Regions from separate parts of the Homo sapiens genome. Here region 2 is linked to region 1. Evidence: fine-mapped expression QTL. A gene starts in region 1. The other region holds a variant in brackets. All regions are shown on one strand. Distances are from middle to middle.

Region 1 (5,364 bases):
TTTTCATATTTGGATTTAGCAAACTCCAAGGCCACAATACTTCCCCGGTTGCCCGGTGAATTTTTTTTCCTTTTTTTTTTTTTAAATACTCTCTTAAAAAGTTCCACCGATCTTTCAAACAAAACATTAGCCAGCCGCCGGGGCCCGGAGGTGCCCGAAGCGACGGGACTGATAGCGGAGGAAACGCAGCCTCCCTCCGCGCCCGCCCGCGGTGTAAACCGAGTACAGGCCGTGGAGCCAGGCTGCCCCGGCTCCCGCTGGGTCCCAACCCCCGCCCCGCCTAGTGGGCCCCGCGGCAAGCGGCTTCTGAACAGCTTCAAGAGGGTTCGCGGAGCAAACACACGTATTGGTCCGTCCCTTTCTCGGGCAGCGCGGTCCCGCCATCAGTCCTGTCCGGCGCGTCTAGCCATGGACTGCACGGCAGTCGGGCGGGGAACGCGGAGAGCGAGCGCACCGACCTGTGAGAGAAGGCCAAGAGGTCTGCGCTGCCGACGCCCGGTCGCACCTCCGCCCCGGGCCCTTTCCGCGGTGAATTTGGGCAGGAGACGCTGGGGCTCCGGAAAGAGACGAGCCCAGTAGAAAGCGCGCAGAGAGGCAGCTTCAGGCCAGGGGAGTGCAAGGTCACAGAGGTCAGGGAGGTGAGCACAGGAGGACATAAACTGAGGGGACAAAGAGGAGCGACAGGAGCTTAGGAAAGCGAAAAAGCACAGAGGGACCCTGGGCGCTGGCTCCAGAGGCGGGCCCAGAGGGTGTGAGGTCAGGCTGGCGGCGGCGTCGTCGGCTGCGACCGGGGCCGGCGTCGCGCGTCCCTGCATCCTCGCATCCGTCTGCACCGGCATGCGGTGGGCTCTCAGAGATCGAGGCGCGAATGCAGCGCGCCGGTCTTGCTGTCGTGGTCCCAGTAAGAGCAATGCATCATGGCGAGCTCGGGCTGCCGGGCACAAGCGAACTGCAGGCCCGGCGCACTGGTGGGCGCGGGCGCCGGGGGCGCGGCGGTGGCTGGGCTGGCAGGGCTGAGCTGGCCCGGCGGCGGCGCGGCGGCCCCGTGGTGCGGTGGGGCAGGCGGCGGTGCGGCGGCCGCGTGCAGATGGTGTGCGTGCGGATGCGGGTGGGGGTGCGGCGGAGGCGGGGGTGCGGCCGGCGGGCCTCCCAGGCCATTGTACGAGTTCACTACGCCGGGGGGCAGCGCCATGCTCTGCACGCGTGTGTACGGCCCGTACGAGGCGGCCGGGCCCGCCAGCCCCTTGACCACAGCGGCCGCGCCAGGGCTACCGGGGCCCGCGGCTGCAGCCGCAGCTGCTGCAGCCGCTGCGGCTGCCGCCATCTGGCAGGAGGCATAGGGCATGGGTGAGGGAGGCTGCGGTAGCGGCCACGAGTTGTTGAGGAAGCCAGACTGCAGGTACTTGGGGGGCGCCAGGTAGCCGTAGCCGTCGGCCCCGGCGCCCGCCACGCCGCACCCGCCTGCGGCGCCTCCGGCCCCGAAGAGCCCCTTGCCGGGCTGGAAGTGCGCGGGCGGCGGCCGGAAGGGCCTCTTCATGCGGCGGCGGCGCCGGTAGTTGCCCTTCTCGAACATGTCTTCGCAGGCCGGGTCCAGCGTCCAGTAGTTGCCCTTGCGCTCGCCGCCGCCCTCGCGCGGCACCTTGATGAAGCACTCGTTGAGGCTGAGGTTGTGGCGGATGCTATTTTGCCAGCCCTTCTTATTCTTCTCGTAGAACGGGAACTTCGCGATGATGTACTGGTAGATGCCGGACAGCGTGAGCCTCTTCTCCGCGCTCTCGCGGATCGCCATGGCGATGAGCGCCACGTACGAGTACGGGGGCTTCTGCGCCGGGTCCGGCTTCTCCGGGGCTGTCCCGCCGCCACCCCCACCGCCCTTGCCTGGGCTCGGCGGCGGCCCTTCTGGCTCCTTGACTGTGCGACCGGTCTCTGGGGCCAGCAGGGCCCCCGCCGCGTCCTCGGGCTCGGGGTAGCTGGCCATCATGACAAAGCCGGCGCGCCGCGGCCGGGCCGCCTCTGCTCTCCGCTCCAGGCGCTGGCGCGGCAAAGAGTTGGGGCGCACGAGTCCGCTTACGGCCAAGTCTCAAACTTCTGGAGACTGCGGATGCCGCCCGCGCTTGCTTGCTGGAGGCCTGTCGCTGCTCTCCCCTCTCCTTCCCCTTCCCCTAGGGAGCGGCCGGCGGGAGTGGAGCTCAGCCTCTGGCCATGGGGAGTCCGCCCAACAGAGAGGGGCTCCGGCCTCGCCGCCCCTCCCCGCTCAGGCCAGTCCCCGCCTTGGTGGGTTTTCTTTTCTGCGCTCTTCCCCTCCCCCCGCCCCCCGGTTTCCCGAAGCACGACCCGCGTCTCTGGCGGAGCTGCCTCCTGGAGTCCCTAGTGCGCCAGGAGCCTCGCTCTGTTCTGATTCGTATGGGCTCCACCGAGTTCCGCTTGCGTCAGGCGCCTTCGCCCCTATAGCGGGGCGGCCAGCCGCGCACGGGCGAGTTCATCTCCAAGTCACTTTTTGTAAACGCCCCGCACAGCCTGGACCGGCCTGCCCCCGCCCAGCGAGCCTCAGGGGCCCAGCCGACAGCCAGGCTCACGCGCCCTTGAAATCTGCCGGTACTCGCTCTGCGGGCTGGGCTGGGAGATGACGAGGACCCCGGTGGGGTCTGCCCGCACCCGGCCAAAGCCCAGGAAGCTCGGGCCCCAGCGAGGAAAGGCGCTCCAAGCCTCCTCGCGGCTTTCAGGTGAAAGAAAACGACTCCTTTGCTCTGCCGTTTGCTGCCGTCTTGAGGCTGAACTTCTAGCTCGGGGCTGGGGAGGGGCGAGACGGCGAGGGGGCTGGACGGGGTAGGGTGGGGAGAGCTGCTCTGAGGCTTTGGGAAAGTCAGCCCAGAAACGGGTGTGACTGTACGAAGAAGCCTCGGCCTGGCCTGTCCCTCGCGCTCTCAGAGTGACTGGGCTGGAATGGGGCAGGGGAGAGGATCTCTGGAAATAGTCGTCAGGGGCGCCGCCTGAATCACCTCTGCCTCTCCCTGCGTTACCAGTGGATCTAGGAACCAGGAATCCGTGTACTAATCCTACGGGGTTGGAGTGAAGGTTGGATGTGTGCTTTAACAGCACCAAGTAGATGCCCCTCAGCTATTGCACTAACACAGGCGGGGCTGTTGCCCGGGACTTTGCGGGACTGTGTATGTGTGTGCACAGGGGTCACATATGGAAGTCATGGAGAGGAGCTGTCCTTGAGATGGGTGAGATACCAGGTGCATGTGTGCTGCTCAGAAACACAGGTATGCACATGTACAAGGTGTGAGATTTGTATTTACGAGGTAAAACACACTTATACTGATAGTTATGTAATATGTTCATCAAGTATTAGAGTAAATGTAGCTGGTGGATATAGCATCTTCTCTTTTTCTCCTTTCTTACTTCTTTCCTTCCCCCCTTTCTTCCTTTCTTTCACAATTCTTCGATGCCTCTTTCCCTCCCAGTGTATGTATTTTGCCACAGACTGGGAAGACAAACATCAGGCTGAGGGAGGGACTTGTTCAAATCTCTCTCCTGATGAGACATTTGTTCTGATCTTTCTCCAAAGAATCAGGAGTTAGTTGTCACCTACCTTAAGCAGAATTCTGATGGGAATCCAATTATTTCAGCATGTACAGAGATTGTTTCAGGGAAAATCAGGTGTGCCTTTTAACAGTGTGCTCCTTAACAGTGCCTTTTAACTTGGCCTAAACAAAAAGTCTGCAGTCATAAAGTATGAGAGAGATGGCCAGTGTTTTGAATCCTCAAGCCCCAAACTCCTTGGTGCTGAGGAGGGGGGCAAGGCCACCTTATGGAGGAAGGTGGACTGAATGGATGTCATATAGCTGTGCATTAGTGATTGGCATGTCTGGAGTGGCTGACTCAATGCCTGTCACTGCCTCTTCCTCCCAGGCTGTTTAGACTCTGAGGGTTCTCCTGAAGCCCAAGGAGCCTTCAGCGGCCTGTGGTTCCAGCATCCACAGGCCATCTACAAGTGTTGTCTGCTGCTCACTCAGGCCTCTGATCTGCATTCTGAGATGAAAGGGAGGGAGGACAAGGGTGGTAGGGCTCTTTGGAATTCAGCATCTTGAAGATGACACCAGAGAGGTCAGCAGGGCAGCCCTTGCCTGGTCACAAGGATGAGAGGGAGCAAGGCTATCCCCAAAGTAGCTTGGTTTTTTTTATGGGCGGTCTCCCACTGCACCCAACAGACATGGGGGAAGCAGCACTTCCGCAGAATCCCTGCTGCTGCTTTCTGAGCAGGAGTGCAGATGTTTTTCTTCTTCCTTACCCCCATCCTTGCCCAAGCTTTGGGTGGGAGTGGTGAGTCCGGTTTGGGGCTGCTGCAGATTGGCCTCAGTGCCTATCCTCCCCCAGCCAGGGCCTGGGCAGGGGGAAAAACAGCTGGGTCTGGCCCCATCCTGGTGGGGGCTCCTCTCTCCTTTTCTCTCCTTTTTTTTTTTCTTGACCACCCAGGCTGGCTCTCTGCGTCTCTCTGTCTTTCTTTCTTCTTCTCACAGGCATTTCCGCTGCTCAGCCCTGCAGCAGCCAGGTGTAACAGCATTGTTGTGTGTGTCATCACTTCCCTGAATTCCACACTCGGCTCCCTTTTCAGCCTTTAAAGAGCCTGTGTGTGTATGCATGTGCGTGTGTGTGTGTGTGTGTGTGTGTGTAGGGGTTGGGGGCAAATGAAGGAGTTCCTCTGAAGGATTTTCAGAATAGAAAGGAGTTCTGCTCTGAAAATACTGATTTCTGACTGTCCCGTAGAGGAACAGAATCCCCAGCCCTGGTGAAGAAGAGGATGCCTGATGCGTGCACCCTGGGAAGGGCTGGAATCGGTCTCCCCAAGATGTGCCTTCACATGGCTGTCCGGCATTCGAAGGCTCAGAAAACAGGCAAGAAAATGCGGGCGGGAAAGCTGGCAGAATGATTACTTTCAGGTCCCCTCCAGGCTTCTGCGGAAAAGCCAGGGGCTTCGGGCTGGAGATAGAGGAATCTAGGGAGAGAACAGAATCCTCTCCTTGCCGGCCCAGCCAGAGGTGGGTGAACCGGGCGCTCCAGGAAACGGTGCGGGGCGCCCTGATTTACTTCTCAACCTTCGGAGGTAGGCTGGTTGCTGGCGAGGTCGGGATCCTCTCTGAACAGGGCATACTGTGCCTAGGTTTTGTGGACGCCAGGGCCGGTTCCTTTTCTCCCCGCGGCATTGGGGCGACGCAGGGCCCCCGGCTTAGTGACCTTGGGGCGGCGCTCACCTCCAAAGGCCAGGGTGGTGGGCTGGGCAGAACTCACTGCCTCTTTGCCCCAGTTTTCCAGGGTCCCGCAGCTGCAATTCAGCAGCCACCGGCGCCTCCTGACCGTGGT
Region 2 (5,364 bases), 180 kb after region 1:
AAGGAAGGGAATGACCTCTCAGGTGACTCCTGGGGAGGCCAGTGCCCTTTTGGATGAAGAGCTGAGAGTTCTATCTTGGGCTTGTTGGATTGAAATAATTTTGCATCAAAAATTTTACGTTGCAGTCCCCAAATGATAAACTGGCCTCTGATGTGTACATTTTTTTTAAAAAATGGAGTCTCACTCTGTCACCCAAGCTGGAGTGCAGTGGTGCAATCCTGGCTCACTGTAACCTCTCCCTCCCAGGGTCAAGTGATTCTCCTGCCTCAGCCTCCCTAATAGCTGGGATTATAAGATGCATGCCACCATGCCCGGCTAATTTTTGTATTTTTACTAGAGACGGGGTTTCACCATGTTGGCCAGGGTGGTCTCAAACTCTTGACCTTTTTTATTTCTTCTGCAACAGCCAGGACTTCAAACAACAAAGACTTGATCTTGTTCAATAACTCTCATTTCCTTGGCTGTGCCAGTTAAACCATACCATTCTCCACTTTGGCTGACTGATGAAATCTCCAAGGGATGGGATTAAATGGGGTGTATGACTAATTTGTCATCCATCTCCTGCACCCAGCAGCATTTGCTGAGCACCCTTCTGTGTGCTGTGTTAGGCCCTGGGCACACAGAGACAAATAGGAGGAGGAGGGGAAGGAGGGTGGGAATAGGGATAAAAGAGAGGCCTTCATGGGCCAGTGATGATGGAGTTCCATGAAACCAAGAAGCACGTTTAACACAACTGTCTGCACCCAAGGTCAAACATGCATGCCTGCATGCACACACACAAAACAAAATGCCAAAGACAGATAAGAGATAGTCAGAGAGTAATAGGGAAGACACATACACATACACTAAATGATTGCATTAGTGTGTGGCAAAGGACATGAGACAGGGAGGGCTAAGTATAAGGATACTGAAAAAGGTCAAAGGATGGGCACCCATCTCTGCCTGGGAGAGCTGGGGCGGGCGCTTCTCAGCAGAGGTAACATTTGAACTGAATTTTGAAGGATGACTAGGAATTCACAGGCAGAGTGTGTGGGCAGCATTGTTGTCATCTGCAGAGTTGTGAGACAGCAAGGCTTACTTAGGAGGGGCAGGACTAGTACAGAGAGGCAGAAAGTCTGAGGTTTTGTGGGGAGGGAATGAATGGGGTGATGACATTGGAAGGGTGGGGAGGGCAGGTTGTGATGGTTACACAAGGAGAGCTGGTGAGGACTCTCCCATGCAGAGGCAGTAGGAATGGAATGAGAAGGATGGGAGAGGAACTGGAGAGGTGTCTGGAAAGGACTCAATGACTGGCATGAAGAAGACTCAGAGTTAGAGTTGCCACCTGACTTTGGGTAACAGAGCAAAGTGAGAGGTGTGTGGGAGGAGGTCTTGGTGCACAAAGAGGCAGTGGTGGTCAGTTATGTGTGATGTTTAAATGTAATTAGGGCAGTGTAGTGGAAAGAGCAGTGGTTGGAATCAGAGGACCTAGTTTTAAATTCTGGTTTCACCACTGTGTACCTTTAAGTAAGTCACTTAACCTCTCTGAGACTCGATTTTCTTATCTGTTAAATGGAGCTAATACACAGAGTACTCTTTTTGAACACTAAATTATTTAATATATAAACTTTGAGCACTAAATTAAATGGGCATGGTGTCTGGCCCATTTCAGGTGCTCGATTTAATCCAGATAAGCAGGTAAGCAATTTAAGGAGACAGGGGCTTACTACTGGGAATGATGGTGAGGTACGATCACCCATGAATGTGCTGAGCTACACCCCTGACTTGAGCTGAGCAGGTAGACACGGGTGGGGTATGTTGAAAACTGGTTAGGTGATGAAGACAAGTCAGAGGAGTTTGAAGGCAGTGTGTGTGTGTGTGTGTGTGTGTGTGTGTGTGTGTGTGTGTGTGTATGTGTGGTTCCTGCAAAACAAACCATCTGAACAGGTAGACTCAACGGTTGCTACAACTTTTGGTGCTTCCAGTGGCCCCCCTTGAACTAGGTTCTTAACTCTGTCTTCAAATTTCAGTCTGAAACCAGAGTATTGCCTAGGGGTGGAATTTGGTCTTCTCCGTATACACTGAAGTCAGTGAAGACTGCAAGGAACAGTAAGTCCAGTCTGCTATGAGCATCT[G/A]TCAACTCAGTTAAGCACACTCATGAGTAGTCATTATTCCCCTTTAGAACATCAGGCCCCAGGGAACAGAACAGCTGCTCTGCTGGCTTCATCTTTGTGAATATGGATGGGACCTGGTGCCTACAGAGGGCCAATGAGATGTGTGGGGAAGGGAGTGGGTGAAAAAGCTGGAGATGCCCCAAGACAGATAGACGAACAGATGAACAGGTATGCCAAGACCACTATCATTTAAGAGGTGCAGCCAGCTGAAATGGCAGGTGCTGGCATCTCCCAACACAAGTTCCACTCCTGATCAGAGGAAACAGTACAGGAACTCCTCCAGCTCTGCCCAGTGTACTTGACCCCCTACCTCTTCAATCAGGCACAGCCTTGACCTGCAGAGAAGCAGCCACGCTGGGTGCTGGGCTCAAAGGCAGCCACTGATGCAGATCAGGGTGTGAAGTATTTTAAAAAGCTGCAGTCGTATCTGCTATGCTCTAGGGAGCCTGAGAAAGTTTACTGCAGGCAGCAAGTGTCCTTAAGCATCCATTCAAAGCCTTTCCTGAGCACCTACAGTGTGCCCTGCTGTGTGCATGTGCTCAGCACTGTGGGGAAGACCCAAAGAAAGATCCAGCCTCAGTTTTCAGTTGAGCTGGTAGTCTGGCTAGGGGGAGGGGCATCAAAAAATACTACATGGATAAATAGGTAAGGAACAGACAACAATTAAGGTGCAATTAAACACCATTTGCCCATCCACTTATTCATCTACTCAGCAAATGTCTTGGAGCCTCTTCTCTCTGCCAGGCCAGCAATGTCCTTGGCGCTGCCTATTGGAGCTCATGGTCTGGTTTGGAGGTGGAGGTGGGTGCATGCTTGGTATAGGAGTAGACAGAAGCACAAGGTTCTTTTTGGGGAAGATGACACAGCCTCTGGGGTGATGACATGTGTTGAAACTGAAAGGTAGAGCAAGAGTTGGTCAGGCTGCTGGAGAGGGAGGTTGTTGGTGGGAGAGCAGTGCCTGGGTTTGAGGACAGTGGTCCCCTCATTGAGGCCAACCACATCCATAATCACAGACCAACTGCCTTCTTTCTTTTGAGAATGGGGACAAGAGTGGGAAAAGAGTAGGGTGAAAGTCCAGAGTCCCAGAAAAACTCAATCATTCCTGGGCAGGCTGGGATGATTGGTCATCCTAAAAGAGCGGTCTTGCCCTCACAATCATCGGGATGCTCCTAAACCATCCTCCAGGGCTTCGCTGAGCTATGCCTGAGCCAGATAGGTGGCCACACAAGACCAAGAGAGTGAAGGGACAGGGCCTCAGCCCTGGGAGCTCACACTCTGACCAGGTAGGTTTTCAGAGTGCAGTGCAGGTTATGGGGGAGTCGGGGGAGAAAATTTAGCTGGAAAGTCATTTCACTTTTTGGAGCCTCGGTTTCTTTATCTCTAAATGGGAACAATAATAATGCTCTCAAGGGATTGTTACAAGGGTTAAATGATATCATATGTGTGGGGTGCTTGGCTTAGGGCTCGGTGCAAGGTAGAAGCTCATTGTCTGGGGAACAGCAGAACTTCATGTGCTGTATGAAGGGTAGGTCCTGTCACATTGTAGGAGATAGTGAAGGGAGCACCCAAACAGTGTTAGAGTCATAGGCATTGGGAGGACACCCGGAAGAGGGGCCTTTAGCCTGGATCTTCCCGTTCCCTAGTGAAAACGCTGCAGGGAGCTGTTAGTGGCAGGAGCTTCTGTTTACCCATACGTGTGGGGACAGAAACTCCCAGTGCTGTCTCTCGCCCTACCTATACTGTGATTTCACTCAGAGACCAGTGGCCCTAGTATCTCCATCTGGATGGCAGTTGCTTAGGGATAAGTTCCTGAAATCCCACCAATCCCTAAAACCAAATGTGCAATTACCCTGTGGTTTGTAGGCCAAGGCCCCAGGGGCCAGGAATCCACAGACAGCAGGGCCTTTAGGGAGTTGGGTGAGGGAGGCTGAAAACTGGGATGAGCCCTGGAGCCACATTAACCCCTGCCATCACAGACTCCTACTGACATTATTGTGGGGTGCCATTGTGCTCCACCCAGATCTCTTCAGGGCTGACACGTCATCCCCCAGCTGCTGGAGATATTGCTGCTCATGGCTCACAGCTGCATCCCTCACTGAGCCTTGCCCTCTACTGTAGAAAACTGTCTTATCTAAGGGTATGTCCCCTCCCAGGGTGGCCCATGGGCCAGTGACTAGCTGGTATGGAAATACCAAGGCCCAGCTGATAGGATCAGCTGAGGCCTTGGTTGCAAATTGCACTGTGGTCAGTTTCTTTCTCTGCCTTATTCTGCCTTCCTTCCTTACATCCTTCCTGACATCTCTCTTAAGAACACCCCCAAGAGAACTTCTGCATACAGCTCTGTCTCAAAGTCTTTTTAGGAAATCCAATCTAAAACCATTGGCTCCCAGAGTGGTCCTGTGACTTAGACTCTAAAATATGGTCCCTTGTCAGCTGGCTGGCAATGAGGACCCCATCACAGGTGGGCCCACAGATGGCCCCTGGTGTGCTGTAGAGGTGCAGTTGCTAAAACTTGCACATTGGTGAGCTGGGGTAGAATGTTGTTGGCAGGCAATTTGGGTTGATGTATTATTTCTGGCACTTAAGAGGAATGAGGGAAATGATAACTATGGGGACTATAGAATTGTGTGGTTGTTGTTGAGTGCCGTTCATTTGTTGAAGAGAGATAATGGCAGGCTTTGGGTAACTAATTACAAATTTAAGGCAAAATGGAAAAGCAAGAGAGCCTTGTTAGCATCATTTAAGCAAACACTAATCTTATGCAGCCAGAGGGCAGACAAAGCAGAAGACTAGGCTTAATTATAAGAGTAGCAGAACTACAGAAGTCAAATTCTCAATCCCAGTGAGCTTTGCACACCAAGCCTCAGGTTCTTGAGATGGGGAAATCTGGGTAGATACAATTGAGAACCTTGAACTTCCAGATTCTCCTGAAGCTGCTAGGCAGAAGTGCCCTCTCTCTGTTATTAGAAGGCAGTTATCCTCCCTCCCCTCCCACACCTTGTTTGAGGCTTATGTAGAAGCCTCCAGTTAAATGAGGCAGATGCTGCATAAAACAATGCTTAATCCTCTTGGGATTCATCCACACTTCTTCTCCTCCAACCAGACCAATAACAAGGGTAGAATCTCAGAGGAGCCAGACTAGGGAGGAGCTGGGCCTGCTAAGGGAGGAGAGGGACTGTACGCTGGTGGCAGGATCTGGCTCATTTGTTCC

What was found. PIP is the estimated chance that this variant, and not a neighbour inherited with it, causes the effect.
Region 2: its variant is the best candidate, but not a certain one, in a credible set for the expression of FOXL2 in pituitary (GTEx, PIP 0.69).

Annotation. Positions count from the first base shown.
Region 1 is chr3:138,944,742-138,950,105 of GRCh38, forward strand. FOXL2 (forkhead box L2) reads right to left here and starts at 2,396. Exons shown (of 1, transcript NM_023067.4): 1 at 1-2,396. The coding sequence starts at 1,981. The coding sequence ends at 851. It overlaps FOXL2NB (FOXL2 neighbor), which reads left to right and starts at 2,476. Exons shown (of 3, transcript NM_001040061.3): 1 at 2,476-2,723; 2 at 4,779-4,898. The coding sequence starts at 2,624. RefSeq lists an enhancer at 1-371 and a silencer at 2,412-2,640.
Region 2 is chr3:139,127,943-139,133,306 of GRCh38, forward strand. No RefSeq gene overlaps it. Among named protein-coding and RNA genes, the nearest start is that of BPESC1, 26 kb to the left of the region's middle. The variant G/A (reference allele first, on the strand shown) is at 2,115.